Linked DNA regions of Homo sapiens: region 1 is linked to region 2. The links come from fine-mapping of genetic effects on gene expression. Tissue or cell type: cerebral cortex. Region 2 holds a variant in brackets; the other region holds the start of a gene. All regions are shown on one strand. Distances are from middle to middle. Region 1 holds the start of SLC7A11 (solute carrier family 7 member 11). Region 2 holds the start of LINC00499 (long intergenic non-protein coding RNA 499).

The links.
Region 1: it holds the start of SLC7A11, and the variant in region 2 is fine-mapped to the expression of SLC7A11 in cerebral cortex (GTEx, PIP above 0.99). The same link has a PIP of 0.9 or more in nucleus accumbens.

Annotation. Positions count from the first base shown.
Region 1 is chr4:138,240,619-138,243,544 of GRCh38, reverse strand. It overlaps SLC7A11 (solute carrier family 7 member 11), which reads left to right and starts at 1,196. Exons shown (of 12, transcript NM_014331.4): 1 at 1,196-1,752. The coding sequence starts at 1,476. RefSeq lists enhancers at 942-1,181, 651-1,850.
Region 2 is chr4:138,308,009-138,310,934 of GRCh38, reverse strand. The region is part of intron 1 of LINC00498 (long intergenic non-protein coding RNA 498); the gene reads left to right. It overlaps LINC00499 (long intergenic non-protein coding RNA 499), which reads right to left and starts at 1,224. Exons shown (of 3, transcript NR_051987.1): 1 at 1,088-1,224. The variant G/T (reference allele first, on the strand shown) is at 1,269.

The DNA of each region.
Region 1 (2,926 bases), 67 kb after region 2:
TTTGTTCAAAGGTTCAGAAGCTTATTTAATGGTGCGTATAAAGGTAGCTTCAGGGTAATGATAACATTCAATTCTTCTCACTGAATCCAAAACCACATGTAACTATAGCCAAAAATGATATCTAGGATTTCTTTTCTTTTCATATTTGTTTTTTCTTGACACTTGGTTGAGAAAGTTAGAAGGGTTTAAAAATGTTTTGCCTTTTTGACTATTGCAAAGTAAATATTTTAATTTAGCTTACATTTTTAATGCATTTTAAATTTATAATAATAACAATAGTTTATATAATGTGGAAAAAAGTCATACATAATATCATTACTTTCTATAACTACCATTCTGTTTTCCTTTACAGGCTTTTGCTATATACATATTTTTATGTAATTGTAATTGTGTAATTTTGAACTTAGAAATTTTTTTTGGTAATTCAAAGGAACAACATGACAATGAAGGATATGTATCTTTTACATAGTTCAAAAAAATCACCTAGTGCTAATGAGAATCAGAAAATGACTATTTTCTGGAGTCATGGTGAATTTTGTATTAGTCACACTCGGATGGTGATTTAAAATACTGGTTTATTATGAGTAGTAAGAAATAATTTTATCTTTTAATGTTGAGGAAGGCTTATAGTTGTGTGTATGTGACAGAAGTATAAAGTGTAGAATCTTTAATTTTGTAAATATTGGATTTGACTGTATTGCCTTATAAAAAACTCAAAATAAAAAAATAAAAAGCATTACACAAATTATGAAATTCAAACTGTGTTGTTATAAACAATGTAGCTTTAGGATACATTCTACTCACAAAACAGTCGCATGTAAAATGTTTTTATACACGCATTAAAGAAAAAGAAACTCCTTAAAATGAAGTAACTATTTCCTGTTTCATTTTGTTTGAACAGCTTTTGTTGCTCACTACGAGTTGCTTTAAATCTCTGGGAAGGTCTGTTCCGAATTTACTACTTCTGGATTGGCTAAAATCTCTTTAAAGTGTGTGCTTTGTTCTCTAAAAAGCTTAGGTCAGTTGAGCAACAAGCTCCTCCTGTTTTTTTCTTTTTTTAAAAAAAAGAGCTGAGTAATGCTGGAGGCTTCTCATGTGGCTGATGCAAACCTGGAGAATTTGCATCATCATTTAGCTGTAGTAAGTTGGTGTGACAGGCAGGCGCTTAAATACAAGCCCATGAGGAAGCTGAGCTGGTTTGTAATGATAGGGCGGCAGCAGCAGCAGCAGCAGCAGTGGTGGAACGAGGAGGTGGAGAATTGAGAGCACGATGCATACACAGGTGTTTCTGAGTAGTAATTAGATCGCTGTGAAGGAAAAAGCACACCTTTGAGTTTTCACCTGTGAACACTATAGCGCTGAGAGAGACAGTCTGAAAGCAGAGGAAGACATCGATCAGTAACACCAAGAGACACCAAAGTTGAAAGTTTTGTTTTCTTTCCCTCTGTTTTATTTTTCCCCCGTGTGTCCCTACTATGGTCAGAAAGCCTGTTGTGTCCACCATCTCCAAAGGAGGTTACCTGCAGGGAAATGTTAACGGGAGGCTGCCTTCCCTGGGCAACAAGGAGCCACCTGGGCAGGAGAAAGTGCAGCTGAAGAGGAAAGTCACTTTACTGAGGGGAGTCTCCATTATCATTGGCACCATCATTGGAGCAGGAATCTTCATCTCTCCTAAGGGCGTGCTCCAGAACACGGGCAGCGTGGGCATGTCTCTGACCATCTGGACGGTGTGTGGGGTCCTGTCACTATTTGGTGAGTGCGACTTTTTCTCTCGTGGGGGCGTGGCTGTGGGGCTGGAAAGCTTGCTTTCTGGGAAAGCAAATGGTAGTTTTTGAGGAGTGAATGGATGGCAAAGGCCACACCAAATTTTTAAAATTTTTGTTCGGGTACGTGAACTACCCAGATGCAGCATCCGCTGTTGGTGTGATCTGGAACACCCTCAAATTGCTTCCTACAGGCTGTACTTTCTTTTCCTGACTAAGACAGGCTATCTTCTGACTTTTCTCTGTGGTGATGAGAGCAAAGGCTAACTTTCATGACCCAGTAAAAAACATGCACACTTTCTGTGCCGGGCAGTTGTACACTTAGCTTGGGCATTCTGGCAGCTGGCATGCTGAATGAGACACCTGTGAAGTGGAACCTGGCATGGGCTATTTAGACATAGAACGGAGTGTTCAGCAGAAGTCTTACTGACTTTTTATTAGCCAAACAAATGGGTGGCAGTCTTTATAAAAATATTTTTTAAGTTCATGTGCTTGTCACCTCTTAATATCCTTTCAAAAGTCCTTGACATGGGAGAGATGTATGATGGCGCATAACTCAATCCCTATCATAATGGGGTATATTGCAATGGCCTGAGCATATTTCAAATTACTTTTCAACCTTTCATCTCTTCTCAATACCCATACACTTTTGCAATATAAGTTTTAAAACTTCAGTTGGGCGTTAGTTTTCTGTACTTGCCCAGATCTGTTTTTTTCATTATATTTCACTTGTTCTCCAGGGACACAGAGAATTTGTCCACCTGTTCACTAAATTAATCTGAAGGGAACTGGCAGAAGTATAATTATGAATTTTTCTTCAAAGTTTATGTCTCTTCTATTGATCTGAGAATTAATAGTAAAGAGGTAAATAAATGCCCCCTTATGGAGTAGGCAAATTACTAGAGAGCTACCTGAGTTTGTTGTAAAGATGATAAAAACTGGTGAACTGTCAAACATTAAATTTGATTTATGCTATGAGGATTTATTTACTCTTCTTGGGAAAGATTCTGTACTTTAAAGTTGCTCTTTGTCTTAACTCTGGGACTAACACTAACTAACAAGTACTAACGCTAACTCTAGGACTAATTAACAAGTACTAACTCCTGTTCCCATGTGTACCAATCAATTCATTCTTTCTACTCAGGCCTTGTGATGTTTTAAAT
Region 2 (2,926 bases):
AAATAACACCAGTCCCTCAATAGCATGGTTCACGTTTCATTAACTATGGTATATTAACTGCAATTTCATGAAGTTCTAACCTCACTGATAGCACTTCAGTTCAGAAATCACTACATAAATATCAGATGCACATCATGATGAGTGACGGATCACCTCAGTATGGCTACTGCACATCTGTTACTCAGTTACCACCCAGCAAAGCATGTAATTGTGTTGCCTCCATGTCTTCCCATGATAAACTCACATGACATTTTACAAAACGGATGATTAAAAGAAGGAATTGTGCAACAGACGAAAGTGCAGCCAAGAAATGAAAAGCAATAATGCTGGATGTGAAATTAGATCCGATAAGAAGACAGCTGACTATGGAATATTGACATTGCTGTCATTTCAGTTTCTAGGTATGAGGCCACAGAAATTTACTAAAAGAGAACTTAACATAAATGAGAAAGGTAGTTGTGATGAACAGAATGAAGATGTCCTAGAGGAAGTAGTGCTGGCAGAAAATTTTCACGTTAGAAAAAACTCTTGGAGGTGTTTCAAGACACTGAAAGAACGAAGAATACAATGCGGGAAGCCGATCCGAACTTAGAAAAGCGTATGATAATTCGCCAGTGCGTAAAGAAAGATGGTGCTCCACATTGTTAGTTACATGACAAGGAGGCAAGCATGGTTTAAACTACTTTTGATAAGTTTTTATGAAAAGTAACTTCAGTTTTAAACATTTCTCATGTTTTAAGTTATATTGTACTAGGTATTAGTTTTACTATTTTTATTTGCTTGTACCTTTGTCAATGACAGCAAGAAAGATTTTGATGTTTTGGCAAAACTTTTTAAAGGCCAAGGCCCAATCATTAGTTTTCTCATTGATTATTAAGATTGCTTTGCGCAATCATCTTTGCAGTCCCACACTATCGTGCTTGTACTGAGGATTATCTGTACCTTATTTACTGTTACATAGTAACTTCAATACTGTCTCATTTAGTCCTCACAATAACTTGCTGAATGAAGCATGCATTATTATTTGTATTTAACAGAAAAGAGAGACTTTAGAGAAATCAAGAAATATGTTTAAATTTATGCTTACTCTTGGCTGAGCTGTGGTCCTGCAGTTGTCCCGTATTCTCTCTTCACTACAACGCTGCAGAGACTTATTCCCCTAAGCTGCCCTGTCCATCAGACAAGCACACCATGCCCGTTACATTCCCAGAGTTCCAGTTATATCCCCTCCCACCCAGGGGCTCCTCTGTTTTGCAGGGTTCACTGTG[G/T]TCTCAATCTGGGTCTTGCCTTTGTAGATCAATCGCTCTTTTGTTTCTCTACTATTCAGGGCATATTGTTGTTGCTGTTTTAAAAACATCTGACTCTCTCTTTTCTAATGAAACTGATTGTGTGTTTTTCCACAAGGCCAGACTCTCCTTTCCTATGATCAAATAATTAAAGGCAATGAATTAATGGAAGAAGCTTGCCGACCCCTTCCAGTGACCATTGGAATCCCAAGACTTCATTCCAGTCCTTTTTCTTCCTCAATCATCAAGCCCATCACTTTTTTCTTCTTACGTCTTGTGGATTTGTCTCTGCTCTCAATCTCTGTTTCTAGATATAAATTTAAACATTCATCATCTTTGCTGTAGTATATTCGTTTATTTTATAAACGCTGATAACACTATGTTCCAGACATTCTTTTAAGTGCTTTACAGCTTTACAAATATTAGTTTATTTAAAACCTCTTAACAGCTACATGAGGCAGATACTATATTATCATTCCCATTTATAATTGAGAAACTGAGACAGAGGCTTAAAGTAACTTTCCTAAATTCATACACCTGGTAAGTGATAGAGAAAGGATTTGAAACCAGGCAGTCTAACTGCAGAATCCATGCTTTAGGCACTGTTTTAGAATGTATCTCATTCATTCATACATTCATGCATTTATCCATTTAGCAAACATTTATTAAGTGCTTATCGTATCAAATACTGTAATAGAGAAGAAAGAAATGTATAAAAAATAAGTGGAGAAATGTTTTATAGGTTACATCACAGGTCAGGGTTAAAGTAAAGACACTAAGGAGTGAGCGGTCAAGTCTAAACAAGAAAGGCAGAGAAGAAATTTAAAATAGATGAGTCTTGAAATATGTGTGGGCAGTTACCTGGGAAACAGAACACTGCATTTTAAGGGCAAGAGCATTTTAAAATAGAGGGAGGGCTGATAACAAAGGCATGGAGGCATGAATAAACTGGTATGTTTGAGCCACTTCCACGTGGTTGAAGCAAGGATTGAGGTAGGGTTTAAAGTGAGACGAAAGGTTGAAAACACAGGAAAGACCCAACGTCAGGGGCAAGGACTTGGTGGTTCTGGCAATGAAACTTGAGTGTACATCTGACTCATGCGCTTCTGCCTGGGGCAACACAATTAGACTGTAGGAAGCTAAAACAAGGGAACTTGTATTCTAAACAAATCACCAAGTTTATTTTGGGGTAAAATAGTTTGAGAGCCACTGCTGCAGGTACGCCAGGCCTCCGTGATCTGGCTTCCGGTTTGAGTACTCTGCAGAGCACTTCACAGACAGCTTCATTCTGCACCATGGGAGATTGAGCTTTCCTCTTAACAGAACGAGTCCATTCTTATTCATTTCTCCATTGGAAAAACCAGTACTTGTGGAGTGACTCCATGTTAAATTCCTTCTGTATAGAGAAGCATATCTTGGTTCAATTTTACATAATTTCACCATGCTAGGCACTTTGAGTTATTGCAAAGATGAGAAAAAAATAGATTTGGCTTTTAGCAGCTCAACATCTAGTCATCCCCAATCTATTTTTCATATCTCATTATAAGAGTGTGATCATTTTAAAAATTTGCATAAGAGATCTTAAATAATATATGAACACTAAAGCTGGCTAGCATTCTTAGCGTTATACAGTGCATCCT